Linked DNA regions of Homo sapiens: region 2 is linked to region 1. The links come from fine-mapping of genetic effects on gene expression. A gene starts in region 1. The other region holds a variant in brackets. All regions are shown on one strand. Distances are from middle to middle.

Region 1 (5,376 bases):
ACCATGCTCAATTGGCACCAAAGAAGGGCAGATTTCTGTGCCGCCTGTCTGTCATCACCGCTCTCGTCAAGTATAATTACAGGGTCACGACTACATAGAGATCTCTCAACCCACCAAATGTGTCCGTACTTTTATGAGCCCGGTTGGGAGAATAAACAGGGCATTTAGCAAAGTACTCATCGTATGTTCTTTGGTCTGCCATGTCTCTTGTGAAACCAATCAAATTCATGTTTCTGTTTTTTTTCCAGCCCTCGACTGTCCACAGAATACTGAAATAAAAGAAGAGTGAATACATTTTATGCAACAAGGAGGAAAAACAACAAAGCGAAAGTCTTAGAGGCTTGTGATACATACACAGGGGATACAGAATAAGGAGATTCTTCCAGAATCCACACAAAGACGGACAGACAGAGGGATGGGAGGAAACAAATTGAGAAAAGAGAGAGAGCAGAAAAGATCAAGAGAGACAGAGATGTAAAGGGAAGAAAGATGAAAAAGAAAATAGAAAGGCAGAGAAACAGAAGAAGAGAATGAGAAATGAGAAAAAAGGGAGGAAGAAAAAGAGAGAGAAGAAAAAGAAAAGAAAGAAAAGGAAAGAAAGTGAAAGAAAAAAAGAAAGATGAAGGAAATAAAAAACAAGGCAGCACAACATGGCTTATGCCTATACTCCCAACACTTTGGGAGGCTGAGGTGGAAGAATCGCTTGAGTCCAGCAGTTTGAGACCAGCCCTGGCAACACAGTGAGACCACGTCTCTACTTAAAAAAAAAAAAAAAAATTAAAAAGTTAGCTGGGTGTGATGGCAGGCGCCTGTAGCCCCAGTTCCTTTGGAGCCTGAGGTGGGAGCATCTCTTGGGCTCGGGAGGTGGAGGCTGCGGTGGGCCTTGGTCAGGCAAATGTACTGCAGCCTGTTGCCCAGGCTCGTCTCGAACTCCCGAACTCTAGCGAACTGCCTGCCTCAGCCTCCGAACTTGCACCTGCCATATCCAACGGCCCTGGGGGTATACAGTGACAGATTTTAGTAGACATGGCGTTTTGCCATATTGCCCAGGTTGGTCTCGAACTTGAATCCGGGAATTTGAGGCTACAGTCAGCCATGGTCGTGCCACTGCACTGCAGTCTGGGTGATGGAGCAAGACTCCATCTCTAAATAACTAAATAATAAAAACAATAACAATAATAACAAACAATAATACAAAGAAATACTAACAACAACAATAATAATAAACTAGTAGGAGTGAAAAATATAAAAATATAAAAGATAATTTAGATCACAATTAATAGCAATAATTTCAAGGAGTTATTTCTTTAACCTGTCTCTCTTACTTTCTGAAACAGGGTCTTTCTCTGTCACTCAGGCTTGAGGCCAATGGCGTGATCATGGCTCACTGCAGCTTCGACATCCCAGAATCAAGCAATTCCTGCAGTCTCAGCCACTTGGAAGGTTGAGATAGCAAGATCACCTGAGGGAGCCCAGGAAGGTCGAGGCTGCGGTGAGCCGAGATTACATTCTCATACTCCAACCTTTCTCAAAAAAGAAAAATAAAGGTAAAACAACAGCAGCTTCAGTGTGTAAAAAGAGGAATAAGAAACATAAAAGAAAAAAGAAAAACAAAATGAAGGACAACTGAAAGTACTGTGGAAACAATTGGAGAGGAAGAAACGACGTAGTGAGAGAACGACATCTAGTGGATGCAGGTGGTAGTGCTGCTGACCAGAGAGATCTGTTCTACCTTAGAAATCCCAAGTTAACCATCAAAGCCAGCGCTCGCCGCCGACATTTGGTGGACCCGGCGCTCGCGGACGGAAGCGATCAGACCCAGTTGGAACCTTATCACACCGAGCCTGCCCACCTTTGCGGCCATCTAACTCCGCCGACCTGCCCGCCGTTCCGCCACCGTCGGCTGGTTGACCCGGGCTGCGGAGAGAGGAGGAAAGACAGAAAGGCAGTGACTGGCTCCTGTCCCATTCCCGCGCGCCTGGGGCGGGTAGAGGGGCCGTGACCCCAGTGGCCACCACTGGGCATGCGTGAACACTACTCGGACAGGAACCACAGGGGCACACCCTCTGACACCCACGCCTCAGCCATTCTCACCAGGCCCGATAAATCCGATCCCAGCCCCTGAAGGAGGTCAAAGCGGGGTGCAGGAAGGAGGCGGAATTGGAGAGGGAACGACGAGCATGGGCGACACCCCTACCTCGGCAAACCCCAGCACAGCACCTTGGAAAGCCCGCAGATGGGGACGGGCGCCTCCCGAAGACACAGCGGGCACCAGTGGTCTCTCGGGAGGGACACCTGCTGCGTGCTTCGGGGCTCCGGGTCCGGTGGGCATGAGCGGGCGAGGAAACTAGGTTCCGGGTATAACAGGAGAAAGGAAGGAAGGTAGACGTCAAGGGCTGAATTACACAGGACACGCCACATCACCAGGTCCCCCGCGCACGGGTGCAGGGAACCTTGTGTGGAGGTTTGACTTTCAATAGATCGCAGCGAGGGAGCTGCTCTGCTCCATAGAAAACCCTGACCCAGAAGCAGGATGTCTACAAATAGTTTAGCATCCGGTTCCCCAAAAACACGTTATGTGATGGGTCAGGGGGTGACCGCCCTTCTGGCAGCAGCCCATTTCCTACGATGAGGGGCTCTCTGCACCGGATCCTGGTTCCCGGCGCATGGCGGGACATGCCCCTCCTGAGGCAGAGCGGCCCGCCGGAGGGGACGGCAGAGGACCGCCTATCCAAGGCCAACAAAGCCAAGCACATACACAAAATGTCTGAACCTGCGGTTCCTCTCGTACTGAGCAGGATTACCATGGTAGCAACACATGGGCAACAACACAAGGGGAACGCAAACAGTAAAACTAACCTGTCTGACATGGATCTAACCATAATGCTTTTAGGGCATGCGCACCGCTGTTGGGTGAATCCATTCTAGTCCGCCTTGCCCTTCGCAAAGAAAAGAGAACTCTCCAGACGCGGTGGATCACGCCTGTAATCCCAGCACTTTGGGAGGCTGAGGAGGGAGGATCACCTGAGATCAGGAGTTCAAGATCAGCTTGGCCAACATGGTGAAATCCTGTCTCTACAAAAATACAAAAATTAGCCAGGCATGATGGCGGGTGCCTGTAATCCCAGCTACCCAGGAGGCTGAGGTGGGAGAATCGCTTGAATCCGAGAGGCGGAGGTTGCAGCCAGCCGAGATCGCGCCATTGCACTCCAGCCTGGACAACAAGAGTGAAAGTACCTCTCAAAAAAAAAAAAAAAAGATACAAATAATTATATGGGCTCTGTTGCCCAGGCTGGAGTGCAGTGGCTTGATATCAGCTCTCTGCGGCAGCCTCCATCTCCCGGGTTCAAGTGATTCTCCTGCTTCTGCCCCTCGAGTACCTGGGACTAAAGGCAAGCGTGCCACCAAGCCCAGCTAATTTTTGTATTTTTAGTAGAACTGGGGTTTCACCATGTTGGCCAGGCTGGTCTTGATCTCCTGACCTCAAGGGATCCACCCGCCTTAGCCTCCCAAAGTGCTGGGATTACAGGTGTGAGCCGCCACACCTGCGCTATGTGTTTTTTAAATCTCTCTTTCTAGGGTCATGAGAATTCTCATTAATTTCACTTAGAGCTCCTGGAGAGAAAAGCCTCTATTATTGTCATTGTAACAGTAAAAAAAAGAGAGATTTTTTTCTTTTGAGACAGAGTTTTGCTCTTGTTGCCTAGGCTGGAGTGCAATGGCCCAATCTCAGCTCACTGCAACCTCCACCTCCCAGGTTCAAGTGATTCTCCTGCCTGGGCCTCCCAAGTAGCTGGGATTACAGGCATGTGCCACCATGCCTGGCTAATTTTGTATTTTTACTAGAGACAGGGTTTCACCATGTTGGTCAGGCTGTTCTCGAACTCCTGACCTCAGGTGATCCACCTGCCTTGGCTTCCTAAAGTGCTGGGATCACAGACGTGAGCCAGTGTGTCCAGCCTTTTTTTCTTTTTTTTTTTTTTGAAACAGGGTCTCCTTCTATTGCCCAGGCTGGAACACAGTGGCACAATCATAGCTCACTGCAGCATCAAACTCCTGGAGCTCAAGCAACCCTCCAGGCTCAGCCTCCCAAGTAGCTAGGATTACAGGTGCACACCACTACGCCCAGGAAATTTTTTCTATTTTTACACAAAATGCCTCAACATGGATTTTTTTTCTTTTTTGGCAGAGATGATGTCTCACTATGTTGCCCAGGCTGGTCTCAAACTCCCCACCTCAAACCATCCTTCCACCTTAGCCTCCCAAAGTGCTAGGATTACAGGCGTGAGCCACTGCACCCAGCCCCAATAACTTTTTTTTTTTTTGGCAGTCTCGCTCTGTCAACCAGGCTGCTGGAGTGCAGTGGCGTGATCTCAGCTCACTGCAACCTCTGCCTCCCAGAGTCAAACAATCCTCCCGCCTCAGCCTCCTGAGTAACTAGAATTACAGGCTGATGGCAGCACGCCCTGCTAATTTTTGCATTTTTAGTAGAGACGGGGTTTCACCATGTTGGCCAGGCTGGTCTTGAACTCCTGACCTCAAGTGATCCACCTGCTGTGCATGGCCTCCCAAAGTGCTGGGATTATGGGCGTGAGCCACCCCACGTGGCTCCCAAGAACTCTTTAAATGAACCTAGTGTCACAAGAACAGATAGCTAAACTGTATCTGAAAAGGTGGCTCATACGGGGAAATTTTTGGTGGATTTGGGGAAGCTTAGGGCAAATTTTAAACATGAGGCCTTTTGTCAGATCACCTACATTCCTTGGATTCTACGTGGGTTTGTTGCAGATGCTTAATATGACAAATTACATGACTTCTATCACTTCATTTGATCAGCCTCCCATTGACTTTCAGCCAAGTCCTGCAGAATCGCTTCTCAGATTGTATGTTTCCTCAAGACTAAGATGTTTTCATAGTCTCTCTCTAACTTCCCCTTTTTGTGGCTATTTATTTATATTTATATGTTTTTCAACTCCTTATTTTTTTTTCTCTTTATAAAAGCTTTAACCTGTGCTATTCTTGAGGGAAATACTGATGCATATCTAAACTTTAAGGGTGTTTTTCATCCTGGCTACAGACACTCGGTGAATAATTTTTCAGGTTATGGGAAAACCCATCATTATGAGAATGTAGCAACTTTTATTTTGCAGTAACTGTTAAAATTGTAGCCATGGTGCTCAGTAAAAGGGGACCTTCCCCCTGTAGGTGTTTGGAGAGGAGTTTTTTGTTAGTAACCTGCTTATGGATGGGGCATTATCACCTAGAAAGGAAAGAGGTACCGTGGTATGCAGTTAAAGGGAGCTGGGGCAAGAGCAAGGCAAAGAAATTCCCTCATGTCTTCAATGCAGAGCCAGCATTTAGACTTCTACTCCAGGC
Region 2 (5,376 bases), 320 kb after region 1:
GAATGTACACATCACAAATCTGACTCTCAGATAGCTTCCTTCTAATTTTTATCCTAGGATATTCACTTTTTCATTTTTGGCCACAATGAGTTCTCAAATGTCTGTTCACAGAATGGAGAAAAACAGGGTTTCCAAACTGCTGAATCAAAAGAAAAGTTTAACTTTGTGAGATGAATGCACACTTCACGAAGCAGTTTCTCATAAAGTTTCCTTCTAGTTTTTATCTGAAGATGTTTCCTTTTTCACCGTTGATGTCAATGAACTCACGAATATCCCTTCATAGATCCTAGAAATACAGTGTTTCCAAACTGATGAACGAAAAGAAATGTTTAACTCTGCAGGATGGATGCACACAGCACAAAGTGGTTTATCAGGTAGCTTCCTTCTAGTTTTTATTGTGGGATATTCATTTTTTCACCATTGACCTCCAAGCACTCCCAAATATCTCTTCGAAGATTCCACAAACACAGTGTTTCCAAACTGCTGAATTTAAAACAATATTTAACTCTGAGAGATGAATCCACACATCACAAAGTGGTTTCTCTAATAGCTTCCTTCTACTTCTTATCCTGGGATATTCACTTTTTCACCATTGGCCTTGATGAGCTCCCAGATGTCCATTCACAGAAAGGTCAAAAACAATGTTTCCAAATTGCTGAATCCAAAGAAAGGTTTAACTCTGTGACATAAACGCAGATATCACAAAGCACATTCGCAGAAAGTTTCTTTCTATTTTTTATCTGAATGGGATTCCTTTTTCACCATGGGCCTGAATGCATTCCCAAATATGCCTTCACAGATTCTACAAAAACAGTGTTTCCAAACTACTGAATGAAAAGAAAGGTTTAACTCTGCGAGGTGAAAGCACACATCACAAATTGGTTTCTCAGAGAGCTTCCTTCTAGTTTTTATGCTGGAATACTCCCTTCTTTGCCATTTGCCTCAATGAGCTCCTAAATGTCCATTCACAGAATGCACAAAAACAGTGTTTCCACCTGCTGAACCCAAGAAAAGGTTTATCTCTGTGAGGTGAATGCAAACATCACTAAGCAGTTTCTCAGAAAGCTTCTTTCTAGTTTTTATCTGAAGATGTTTCCTTTTTCACCATAGTCCTCAATTCTCTCCCAAATAACAAATGGCAGATCTGACAAAAACTGTTTTTCAAAACTCCTGAGTGAAAAAAAAGTTTTACTCTGCTAGATGAATGCACACATCACAAGGCAGTTTCTCAGAGAATTTCTTCCTTGTTTTATGCTGGGATATTCGGTTTTTCACCATTGACCTCAATGTGCTCCCAAATGTCCATTCGCAGAATGGACAAAAACAGTGTTTCCAAACTGCTGAATGTAAAGAAAATTTTAATCCTGTGAGATGAATGCACAGATCACAAATCAGTTTCTCAGAAAGCTTTCTTCTAGTTTTTAGCCTGGGATATTCACTTCTTTGCCATTGGCCTAGAAGGGCTGCCAAATATCCATTCACAGAATGGACAAAAATAGTGTTCCCTAAGTGCTGAATAAAAAGTAAGGTTTAACACTTTGAGATGAATGCACACATCACAAGCAGTTTCTCAGAAACTTCTTTGTAGTTTTTATCTGAATTGTTTCCATTTTGACCATAGGCCCCAATGTGCTCTCAAATATCCCTTCACAGATTCTACAAAAGCAGTGTTTTCAACCTGCTGAATGAAAAGAAAGTTTTAGCTCTATGCAATGAATGCACACCTCACAAAGTGGTTTCTCAGTGGTTTCTTCTAGTTTTTATCCTGGCTTATTCACTTTTTTGCCATTGGCCTCAATGAGCTTCCAAATGTCCATTTGCAGAATGGACATTCTGCAGTTTCCAAACTGCTGTATTAAAAGAAGGGTTTAACTCTGCAAGATGAATACACACATCATAAATGGTTTCTCAGATAGCTTCCTTCTAGTTGTAAACCTGGGAAATTTACATTTTCACCATTGGCCTCAATGCTCTCCCAAATGTCCATTTGCTGAATTAACAAAAACAGTGTTTCCAACATGCTGAATAAAAAGAAAGGTTTAACTCTGTGATTTGAATGCACACATCACAACAGTTTCTCAGAAAGTTTATTTCTAGTTTTTATCTGAAGTTGTTTCATTTTTCACCACAGGCCTCAATGTGCTCCCAAGTATCCCCTTGCAGATTCTACAAAAACAGTGTTTCCAAACTGCTGAATGAAAAGAAAGTTTTACATCTGTGAGATGAATACACACATCACCTAGCAGTTTCTAAGATACCTTCCTTCAATTTATTATGCTGAGATATTCACTTTTTCACCTTTAGCCTGAATGAGCTCCCAAATGGCAATTCGCAGAATGGACAAAAACTGTTTCCAAACTGCTGAATCCAAAGAAAGTTTTAACTCTGGGAGATGAATGCACATATCACAAAGCAGCTCCTAAGAAATCTTCTTCCTAGTTTTTACACTGGGATAATCCTTTTTTGCCAATGGCCTGAAAAAGCTCCCAAATATCCACTCATAGAATGGACAAAAACAGTGTTTCCAAATTGCTGAAACAAAAGAAAGTTTAAACACTGTGAGATGAATGCATACATCACAAAGCAGTTTCTCAGAAAGATTCTTGTTTTTTTCTGAAGATATTCCCTTTTCTGAAGATATTTCCCTTTCCACCATAGGCCTCAATGTGCTCCCAAATATCCTTTTACAGCTTCTACAAAAACAGTTTTTACAAACTGC[C/T]GAATGAAAGGAAATGTTTAACTCAGTGAGATGAATGCACACGTCACAAAGCGGTTTCTATGATAGCTTCCTTCTTGTTTTTATCTTGGGATATTCTCTCTTTCACCATTGGCCTCAATGAGCTCAAAAATTTCCATTTGCAGAGTGGACAAAAAGACTGTTTCCAAACTGCTTAATCCAAAGGAAGATTTAACTCTTTGAGATGAATGCACACATTACAAAGCAGTTTCTCAGAAAGCTTATTTCTTGTCTTTATCTGAAGATGTTTCCTTTTTCACCATAGGCCTTATTGTGCTTCAAAATATCCCTTCACAGATTCTAAAAAAACAGTGTTTCCAGACTGCTGAAAGAAAAGCATGTTTTATCTTTGTGAGGTGAATGCACACATCACAAAGTGGTTTCTCAGAGAGCTTCCTTCTAATTTTTATCTTGTGATATTCGCTTTTTCACCATTGGCCTCAATGAGCTCTCAAATATCCATTGGCAGAATGGAAAAAAACGATGTTTCCAAAGTGCTGAATCCAAATAAAGTTTTAACTCTGTGAGATGAAAGTGCACATCAAAATTCAGTTTATTAGAAAGCTTATTTCTGTTTTTATCTGAAGAAGTTTCCTTTTTCACCATAGGCCTCCATGCGCTCCCAAATATCCCTTCAAGGATTCAAGAAAAACAGGTTTTCCAAACTGCTGAGAGGAAAGAAATGATTAAATCTGTGAGATGAATGCACACATCACAAAGCAGTTTCTCACCAAGCTTCTTTCTAGTTTTTATCTGCAGATGTCTCCTTTTTCACTGGTTGCATCAATGTTAAAGTCTGTAAGATGAATGCACACGTGACAACGGGGTTTCTCTGGTAGCTTCCTTCTAGTTTGTTTCCTGGGATATTCACTTTTTCTCCATTGACCTCGACATACTCTCAAATGTCCATTCACAGAGTCGACAAAAACAGTGTTTCCAAATTGCTGAATCAAAAGAAAGGTTTAAATCTGTGAGATGAATGCACAAATCACAAAGTAGTTTCTCTGAAAGTTTCTTTCAAGTTTTTATCTTTATTTATTTCCTTTTTCACCATAGGCCTCAATGGTCTCCCAAATACCCCTTTGCAGATTTTACAAAAACAGTGTTTCCAAACTGCTGAAAGAAAAGCAAATTTTAACTCTATGAGATGAATGCACACATCACAAAGCAGTTTCTCACAATGCTTCATTCTTGATTTTATCTGAATATGTTTCCTTTTTCACCATAGGCCTCAATGGTCTCCCAAATATCCCTTTGCATAATTTACAAAAACAGTGTTTCCAAACTGCTGAAAGAAAAGCAAATTTTAACTCTGTGAGATGAATGCGCACATCACAAAGTAGTTTCTTACAATGCTTCATTCTTGTTTTTATCTGAAGATGTTTCCTTTTTCACCACAGGCCTCCATGCACTCCAATATCCCTTTGCAGTTTCTACGAAAACAGTGTTTCCAAAATGCTGCATGAAAAGAAAGGATTAAATCTGTGAGATGAAAGCAGACATCACAAAGCAGTTTCTCAGACAGCTTCCTTCTAGTTTTTATATGGGTTATTCACTTTTTCACCACTGGTCTCAATGACCTCCAATATGTCCATTCACAGAAAGGACAAAAAGAGTGTTTCCAAACTGCTGAATCCAAACAATAGTTTAATTCAGGTAGATAAATGCACACATCACAAAGCAGTTTCTGGGAAAGCTTCTTTCTAGTTTTTATCTGAAGATATTTTGTTTTTCACCACAGACCTCAATGTGCTCTCAAATACCCCTAAGCAGAATATACAAAAACAGTGTTTCTAAACGGCTGAATGGAAAGAAATGTTTAACTATACGAGATGAATTCACACATCACAAAGCATTTTCTTAGATAACTTCCTACTATTTTTTATGCTGCAATATTCTGTTTTTTGCCATTGGCTTCAATGAGCGCCCAAATGTCAATTCACAGAATGGACAAAACCAGTACTTCTAAACTGCTGAATAAAAAGGGTTTTAATTCTGTGAGATGAATGAACATATCATGAAAGAGTTTCTCAGAAAGTTTCTTTCTAGTTTTTATCTGCAGATATTTTCTTTTTCACCACAGGCCTCAATGCCCTCCAAAATATCCTATCGTAGATTCTACAAAAACAGTATTTCCAAACTGATGAAGGAAAAGAAAGGTTTAACACTGCGAGATGAATGCACATGTTACAAAGTGGTTTCTCATATAACTTTGCGCAAGATTTTATCGTCAGATATTTGCTTTTTCACCATTGGCCTCAATGAGATCCGAAATGCCCATTCGCAGAATGGACAAAAACAGTGTTTCTAAACTGCTGTATCAAAAGAAACTTTGAACTCTGTGAGATCAATGAACACATCTCACAGCAGTTTCTCAGAAAGCTTCTTTCTAGTTTTTATCTGAAGATATTTTGTTTTCCTCTGTAGGGCTCTTTTCACTCCCAAATATACCCTTGCAGTTTCTACAAAAACAGTGTTTTGAACATGCTGAATTCAAAGAAAGGATTAACATCAAAAAGTGGTTTCTTAGATTGCTTCCCTCTAGATTTTATCTTGGGATATTCGCTTTTTCTCCGTAGGCCTCAATGAGCTCCCAAAAGCCCATTTGCAGAATGGACAAAAGCCATGTTTCCAAACTG

Evidence for each region. PIP is the estimated chance that this variant, and not a neighbour inherited with it, causes the effect. A credible set is the group of variants that fine-mapping cannot tell apart.
Region 2: its variant is the best candidate, but not a certain one, in a credible set for the expression of LINC02963 in whole blood (TOPMed, PIP 0.63).

Annotation. Positions count from the first base shown.
Region 1 is chr12:34,216,929-34,222,304 of GRCh38, forward strand. It overlaps LINC02963 (long intergenic non-protein coding RNA 2963), which reads right to left and starts at 2,283. Exons shown (of 5, transcript NR_185896.1): 1 at 2,198-2,283; 2 at 1,853-1,917. RefSeq lists enhancers at 1,459-1,959, 1,737-1,886, 1,960-2,460.
Region 2 is chr12:34,539,368-34,544,743 of GRCh38, forward strand. No RefSeq gene overlaps it. Among named protein-coding and RNA genes, the nearest start is that of LINC02963, 320 kb to the left of the region's middle. The variant C/T (reference allele first, on the strand shown) is at 2,720.